Linked DNA regions of Homo sapiens: region 1 is linked to region 2. The links come from fine-mapping of genetic effects on gene expression. A gene starts in region 2. The other region holds a variant in brackets. All regions are shown on one strand. Distances are from middle to middle.

Region 1 (4,388 bases), 76 kb after region 2:
TTTTTGAATTTTTAGTAGAGACAGGGTTTCACCATGTTGGCCAGGCTGGTCTCAAACTCCTGACCTCAAATGGTCTGCCCGCCTTGGTCTCCCCGTGCTGGGATTACAGGCGTGAGCCACTGCACCCGGCCAGAAACCCAAAACTTTTAAGTGCTCATTAAAAAAAGTATGAATTTTTTGATGAGTATTAAACTGTACTGCACAGGGAATGAATTGCAGAGCAGTGAAGCACAGCTCAATGATTAATCTCAGTCCATTAAAAGAGGCATGATAGATCTAGAATGCAACTTTGATAAAAAAAAAAAAGGCAATGTGTACTAATGTTAGAGAAAACAAATTGGCATGTTAACAGAATTCTAATTTAACCAGTAAATGCCTATTCATTAGAGTGTAAAGCCATAACAGAGGCTATATACTTAAAAAACACATGCACACACAAAGCTTTAATTTGGTACCATAATCTGAAAGAAAATTGGACCCAAATTGCTTTATGTCCAGTTAAATCTTGCTACCATCTGAAGAGACAGTGAAATAAAACTGAAACACTTACTTGATGAGATAGGTATTCAGTTACTGTGCATTTCCATCTACAAGTAGAAATATTTCAAAATAAATACACCATGTCAATTGAAATTCACTCCATCCCCTATTCTTACTAAACACAAATGACTTATTCCTGTGTATACTGAATTATAATATAAAAGTAGAAGAATTTAATATTAGTAATCAGATTTCATTCAAGAGCATGGGAAAAGAAAATAGACCTTTACCTACCAAGCCTTTTGACATATAATTTGGTGACTTCATTTTTTGGGAAATGCAAGTATCCAGGGAGAAACGTTTTAAAGTGAATCCTCTAGCCACCTAAAAATTAGCTCAAACAGTAGCACAGACTGAAATCAAGAGAATCTGAATCTAGGGGCAACATTGGAAAAGAAAGTTTGTATTAAGTAAAAATGACAGTATCTTGGGTGTTCTCTATGTGGAAATTTCATTATGACGGTAATATGATACAAATTTAGTACTTGTTTACCCAGCATGACCTCTAAAGTCTGGGGAGGACATCTGAATACCATTCTTTATGCTGGTTCTTATGACTTATGACTTTCATTTTCTCTCTACTCATTTCCTTTTAGGCCCTCACAATCCAATTTCTGATCCCAATTCCCTACTGATATTATGCCTTTTTTTTTTTTTTTTTTTTTTGAGACGGAGTCTCGCTCTGTCGCCCAGGCTGGAGTGCAGTGGCGGGATCTCGGCTCACTGCAAGCTCCGCCTCCCGGGTTCACGCCATTCTCCTGCCTCAGCCTCCCAAGTAGCTGGGACTACAGGCGCCCGCCACTACGCCCGGCTAATTTTTTGTATTTTTAGTAGAGACGGGGTTTCACCGTTTTAGCCGGGATGGTCTCGATCTCCTGACCTCGTGATCCGCCCGCCTCGGCCTCCCAAAGTGCTGGGATTACAGGCGTGAGCCACCGCGCCCGGCCTGATATTATGCCTTGAAAGAAATCAGGGATCACTTCCTCCTAGCCCAAATCATTAACCTTTTTATTGGCTCCCAAATTTTCTCATGGTATTTGACGTCAGTGGTCACCCCATTTTGAAAATATTCTTTTGGCTTCTGTGATCTTATACTTTCCTGTTCATAATTTCTTGCTCCTAACCACGGTCAGTAGGGTGAACTGAGTAAGGTGCTTAGGGCATAACATTTAAGGAGGCACTCACTTTAAGGGTCATGGAAATGCAAGGTGTTCAGACTGAACACATCTGAATAATCAAGATCAACTGTATTTAGCACAATGAAAAGAGTAAAACTATTTTGTCTCTATTTCACTTACTGTTTTTCCATGGCAGAACATACGGCAGAGATTTGGGAACTCGCATGCCTGAAGCCAGGTTATTCTTATGTTCTGTAACTATGTTGCTCGCAGGGCTGCAAAAAGATGAATTTGGCTATGTCGGCAGATCAGTATCATTCAAGCAGGCACACGTAAGATAATCAAAATGTGTTTTTTGTAATTTGGGGAAAAACAACAACCTACATTCATCTGAAATGTAAACACATTTCCATCAAAACGTTCCGGCAATTAGAATGATTACCACTTACTTCTCTGGAAAGCTCCCTGTTCTGTATAGACATTAAGATGGGTCTAACCATTTTCATTTTCTAGAAATTGAGATAAACAGCAATGCCATCTACTGTTCAGCTGTATGACAGGCTCATCAACTCACTCAATAAACGTAAGAGATAAAATAAAGTGCTAAGGCAACCAAACCAAAAGCAGCAAATCTTCAACTGAGGTAAAATTAAAAGTTGTAGCCAACGGAATTCATTTTAAGTTTTTCTA[T/G]CTTAGTGCACATAAAATAGTATACACTTAAAATTATTTACTGTTCTCAGTAGTTAAAAAGTAAAAATTTGACAAGCATTCTGTTTGGGGAAAAAAGTGAAGTCTAGCATCTTATTCCTTCATTTCCTAAACCAGAAATATTCTCATTTGGGTTTGAAACTTGATCTTCCAAGGTTTGAGTATTGGTGTTAATGAGAAATAGCTTCATTCATTTTTATTTTATTTTGGACAAGGACTCTTTCTGTCACCCAGGCTGGAGTGCAGTGGCATGATCATGGCTCACTGCAGCCTCGACCTCCTGGGCTTAAATGATCCTCTGGTCTCAACTTCCCAAGTAGCTGAGACTATAGGCATCCACCACCATGCCCAGCTTATTTTTTTTTTTTAATTTTTTTGTAGAGACAGGATCTTACTGTGTTACTCATGTTGATCTTGAACTCCTGGCCTCAGCGATCCTCCCACCTTGGCCTCCAGGTATGAGCTACTCTGTGCCTGGCCAGAAATCATCTAGTTTTCAATTAGAGCTGGGCATGAGCAACACTTTGGGAGGCAGAGGGGGGAGGATCACTTGAGGCCAGAAGTTTGAGACCAGCCTGGGCAAAAATAAAGAATTAGCTAGGTGTGGTGGTGGATCCCTATAGTTCTTGCTATTTGAGAGGCCCAGGGGGATCGCTTGAGCCCAGGAGGCAGAGCCTGCAGTGAGCCATGATCATGCCATTACACTCCAGCCTGGTTGACAGAGTCCCTGTCTCTAAAAAAATAAATCAGATACAAAATCAGTGGGAAGAAGAGATGCATATTCTTTCCTAATAGGTACTCTGGATTTTCCAATCTCAAATAAAGAATTTTTAAGACTGCTTTTTCCTATACACTAGTTACCTAAAGTAAAAATGATCCAAGTGGTATAGTGGGAGAATTTTTTCAAAGCATTAAAATAATGTAAACCTAGCAAAAAACATAACTAAGACACATGAAAGTCTGGGGCTACTGTTTCCCTTGCTAAACGATAATGTATTTTTGTATCCCTTATGATTGGCACAAAGCACATGACCTTTTTGAATCAAGGAATAAATATGAAAAAATGCCAAAACAATATCTAGACTAAACTACCATCAAGGAACATCGTTAAAGAAAGTGGTCAATTCATGCTCCGGTGGCTTCTCTTGGTAACAGAACACGCTGATTTTGGGAGACAATGCTGGGATAAGACTATTTCATTTACCTGTTGTTGTCAGAGTAGTGAGTTGTGCCCCAGACAAATGGGGTGCTGGTCTGCTCCCACAAATCTGTTAAAGGAAGCAAAACATAGTTTGTGGTACTACTAGATAAGACACCAGCAGTTCATGTTGGTTGAATTTATAAGATGGGAAATAATACACCTAAGTTTTGCAGAAGCAAGTAAAAATTGATCAAGTGTCCTGCCTAAGTGACACAGTAGCAAGAATTTAATTGAAGAATATAAACACAAGCAACATAAATAATAATAAACGTGCCTACTAACAATCAAACACAGATGGTACAACACAATTTATGGAAAAAAACAGATGTAAAGAAGTGCTTTTTCCAATCAAGAGGGATTGGCTGTTCCACGTGTCTGCACAGCGATACAAATGTGCTCGTTTTGGGGCCCAATAAAAATAATAAGGCATTCTGAACAACATGGTATGTTCATAAAAAAGGAAAATCTTCCTTCTGTCTTAAGCAAATGACTTGAGATTTAGACATTGTGAAGAAAAAGATGTAGAGGCAGCTCACCTTTATCCCAGTCTTCATCGCAAGGAGGGCACTGCCAAGTGCTCTCAGCCAGAGTCTCTTGTCTAAGGCTCCTGGTTTGGTTGACTGCAAGACAATAAAGATTGGATATAAGAGGGGGATATTGCCAAGTTATTGTGTTCAAAGGGGCTAGTAGCTTAAAAGGTTGCAAGGGTAGCCTGTTGGGTCTTTATTTCTGAAAAATGGATAGTATAAAAGCTAAAAGAGGGATCTTATCTCTTTGCTGACAGAAGAAAGAAAAGCAGAAACAAAAATGTTTACCATATT
Region 2 (4,388 bases):
TATTATTTTTTAAAACAAAACAAATAGGCCAGGCACGGTGGCTCAAGCCTGTAATCCCAGCACTTGGGAGGCTGAGGCAGGTGGATCACAAGGTCAGGGTTCCAGACCAGCCTGGCCAAGATGGTGAAACCCCATCTCTACTAAAAATACAAAAATTAGCTGGGCATGGTGGTACGTGCCTGTAATCCCAGCTACTGAGGAGGGTGAGGCAGGAGAATGGCTTGAACCCAGGAGGCGGAGGTTGCAATGAGTCAAGATCATCATGCCACTGCACTCCAGCCTGAGAGATTGAGCAAGACTACATCTCAAAAACAAAACAAAACAAAACAAAACAAATAAAGCTTTAGCTTTAGCACCACATGCTAAAGCATCATCCTCACTGGAGACCAGCTTCCTCTTCCAACCCTCTGCCTCTGTCAGTGGTGACTTCCATCCAATCACAAAGGCCTGAATGCTGGAGTCATCCTTGACTCATGCCTTCTCTTCTCCCCCACCCCCAAACACCAGTTGGTCACCATGGCCTGTCAATATTTCCTTGAAATTACCTCCCCCATTCTCCCTTTCTCTCCACTCATACTGCCACTGCCACCAGCCCCGTCTGGCTTTTGAGGCTTCCCTCGGGCCTGCATTGCTAGGACAGCCTCCTAACTGTCACCTTCCTCCTGCCTCTGTTCCCTTTCATCCAGTTGCCCCACTCACCTTCCTCAAACACTGCTCTTACCAAGTCACTCTCCTGCTCAAGAATAGACAGTGGCGGCTGGGTGTGGTGGCTCATGCCTGTAATCCCAGCACTTTGGGAGGCTGAGGCAGGCGGATCACCTGAGGTCAGGAGTTTGAGACCAGCCTGGCCAACATGGTGAAACCCCATCTCTACTAAAAATACAAAAATTAGCCCGGTGTGGTGGCACACGCCTGTAATCCCAGCTACTTGGGAGGCCGAGGCAGGAGAATCGGTGAACTGGGGAGGTGGAGGCTGCAGTGACCCAAGATCGTGCCACTGCACACCAGACTGGGCAACAGAGTGAGACTCCGTCTCATAAAAACAAACAAACAAACACACGAATAGACAGCACCTCCTTATTTCATATTGTATTAAATCTAGACCACCTTGCCAGTCCTCCAAGCCCTATCCCACTGATGCTACCCACCCAGCCGTGGACTGCAGAGAGGTGAAACTTACAAACAGGCATGCTTATTTTCCTGCTCATTCCCTCTTTCTGGATTCAGCACCTACACCCCTCCTACCTCCCTACTGTTACTACCACCAATTTAAGTCTCATTACTTCTCTAGATGGTAGGGCGATTCACTGTAGGACTAAATGAGATAATTCATATAAAACACTTAGCACAGTGTCTGGCCCGTAGCAAGACCTCAGCAAATATTAGCTATTATTATTGTTGTTAACACTGTACCAGATGGCCCACAATACTCAAAATTAACTAGAATTAAGGAAGATGGGGTCATAAGAGGAGATAAGGAATTAGAAACAGAAGAAGAGGGCAGAGGTGGGTCTGAGAGAGAAAGGTCGGGTCACAAGAGGATGGAGAAGGCAGGCAGGCTGCTACTTACGGTGCTGTAGTTGCTGAAGAGGCCAAGGGTAGGGGCTGGCTCGAGTGGGAAGGGCAGGATCTGCTTGAGGTCCAGTGGGGGCTGCATGATCGGGGGCTGCCGTAGCAGAGGCAGGGGCCCTGCCCGGCTCAGGCTGCCTGAAGGGCAGAGAAAACATTCTGTGGGGTAGGAAGATTAAAGCTTGGGAACCCCACCCAAGCCTGCCAGTCCCACTCCCTAGCCAGGGCCCCCACACTCAGAAGTGTCACCCTCAGTGCACATAGTGTACACACTTCCCCTGCTGGCTCCAGAGCAATGGAGCACAGTGCCCTGTGGGCCTGGGGGAGGGTGTAGACCAGTCCTTCCCTTCTGGGTGGTTTTCACTTCCCCCTTTTCCAGCCTCCCTCCCCCAAACTCCTTAGGCACATTACAGACCCAGTAAGAGCTCATACCTTTTCTGCAGGCTGCCTGCTGAACCAGCAGGACTCCCAGCCTCAAGCCCCTGGCCACCCTCTTCTTCTGGTTTTGCTTTCCCCCAGGGGATCCTAAAGCTTGGTATCGCCCCAGGAAGAAGAGAGTCAAGTGGGTGATTCATCCTACTGACCAGAGGGGGATATTGAGACTTAGATTTGGAGGGGGGCTGCTGAATCTCTCAGATGCCCTAGAATTAGATTTTGCTCTAACTATAATTCTTTATTAACTATTGACATCTGTGGGGGTAGGTAGTGGGTTGGGTGGCTTTTGCTCTGGGAGGTGAACTACCTAGGCCATTCTCAGAGCCCCTTCTCCCAACCTTCCTCAGTCTTCCCCCATGCCCTTTTGTCTCACCAGGAATGCTCAGCTACAGGTCCAGTTCTGCAGGAGGAACCTCGACCTGGCCTATGGGCGGGGAATGCCTGGGTCTGACCCCAAGGGGAAATGAAAGTCCAGGCCAGCCATTCAACTACCCTTCTCTGAAACCTTCTCCTCCTCCTCTCAGAGTCACGGGAGGAACTCCACCAGACTCCAAAGGGGCAGCCCAAAGGTCCTCAGAGCCCTTCTGGGCTTCCACTGGCCCAGCTCCCTTCTGCGACCCTGCTGTGCACCAGCTGGGGAGTTCTGGCCGCCCTTCACTGCTCCAGTAACCCCCTGACAGCAACAGGGGTTCCCAGGAACAAAGGCAAACCGAGGAGGCTGCGTGCTTGGCCCGTCCTCCCTTGACTTTACTAGAGCAGAAGGTCTCCAGGATCCCTTCCTGTTCCCTCCAGACACCACCCCCTTTCATACCTTTAGTTTCTGATGCCTGCTGCCCCCAGGCAGTGGCCTGGCCCTGGCCCCCCAGGGGCCTGGGCCTGACAGCGTCCCCTTCCCTTGGTTCTGCCCTCTGCCCCCTCCCTTGCCAGCCCCCTCCCCCTCAGCCCAGTCAGTAGAATCAGCCAATCAGAATCCTGGAAAAGTGGGGCAGAGGGGAGGGCAGGGGAGCAGGGATTAGGGGAATCTGAGGCGACAGGGAGGGGGTGGGGAGGGCTCAGGCACAGCTGGGGGCTGGGAGCTGGTCCAGAAAGGTCTGGAGGGGTCTGTCTCTTTCACCCCATGCCAGGATGGGTGGTCAGGGTGACTGAGACAGAGCAGGGGGTCAAGGCTACTGGGAGTTTGGGCTTCAGAATTCTCAGGGCTAAAGGAGAGGGTAAGATCCTTGGCTTTGACCCTTAAGTAGCTGGGGGTCTGTATGCTTTGTGTCTATTCCCTCCTCTGTCACCTTCAAGGTTGGGATGGGGTGGAGAGAGGACACACACACACACACACACACACACACACACACACAGAGAGACGGACAGATGAAAGTGAGTGAGAGGATGGGAGAGTGGTAGCAGCAGGAATAGGTGACTGAGGAATCGGACAGTGACACTGAGAGAGAAAAGGATAGAGAACAATGGAGAGATGTCAGAGAGCGAAATCAGACATACAAACAGAGAGACACTGCCGAAAAGCTGGACACAGAACTAGAGACTAGGGCAGACAGACCGAGAGACAGAGAACAGAGACAGCGAGAAAGATAAAAGAGAAGAGAGAGGGACAGATAGATGGATGGGGCAGCTTGACCACCTCCCCTTCCTGGTCTGTCCCCTTATGGCATCTGCCCTCTGTGCCCCACCCTCCCTTACTGCCTGTTACCCAAGGCCAGGGCAGCCTTAATGAGCCCCAGGCGGCATCAGGAATGGTGAGAGAAACCTGAGTGCTCCCAGAGTCCCCTGCACCCAGCATCCACCCCCAGCAGCTGGTTTTGGGCTGGCACTTGCCCTGCCCCAGAGCACCAGAGGCTGAAGCTTGGCTTGACCCTTTCCCTGGTTCTAGATTTCTCTAGGCTCCCACTCCTCAAAGCCATCTTAAGAGGAGACAGCAGAGTTCCAGAAAAAGCCACAGAAAAAAATTTGAGGCTACTATGTGCCAGGTAATGAATTCCAAGTATTATCATATTTAACCTCTGAAGTAGCTCAATGAAGTAGCCATGATTCAATGAAGTAGCTGATAATATTTTTCTACTTGACTTATGAGGAAATGGAGACTCAGAGTAGTTAACAAACTTGGCTGATGTCACACAGCCTGTAAATATCAGAGCTGAGATATAGATCAAGATCTGCTGGACTCTACAGCAAATTCTTTCTCTGCTACCTTACTCCCAAAGGGCTTGAATTTAACTGAAGCAGAGATCTGAGCACAGGCTTCCATCTTGTTCAAGGAGAGGAAGGGGAGAGCAGGTTCCATGCACTTCCTCAGGTTGGAGTCCTCATTTTTCCTCCAGAGGAGGGATAGAGGAAAACAGGTAGCAGCCACTCAGTTATCTATGGCTAACAACTCA

The links. PIP is the estimated chance that this variant, and not a neighbour inherited with it, causes the effect. A credible set is the group of variants that fine-mapping cannot tell apart.
Region 1: its variant is the best candidate, but not a certain one, in a credible set for the expression of ZNF385A in whole blood (TOPMed, PIP 0.75).

The regions. Positions count from the first base shown.
Region 1 is chr12:54,458,539-54,462,926 of GRCh38, forward strand. GTSF1 (gametocyte specific factor 1) reads right to left here. Exons shown (of 9, transcript NM_144594.3): 5 at 4,104-4,187; 6 at 3,571-3,634; 7 at 1,839-1,933; 8 at 551-587. The coding sequence ends at 571. All of the region lies in intron 3 of GPR84-AS1 (GPR84, ZNF385A, ITGA5 and GTSF1 antisense RNA 1), which reads left to right. Among named protein-coding and RNA genes, the nearest start is that of GTSF1, 13 kb to the right of the region's middle. The variant T/G (reference allele first, on the strand shown) is at 2,349.
Region 2 is chr12:54,382,858-54,387,245 of GRCh38, forward strand. It overlaps ZNF385A (zinc finger protein 385A), which reads right to left and starts at 1,876. Exons shown (of 7, transcript NM_015481.3): 1 at 1,571-1,876. The coding sequence starts at 1,657. All of the region lies in intron 1 of GPR84-AS1 (GPR84, ZNF385A, ITGA5 and GTSF1 antisense RNA 1), which reads left to right.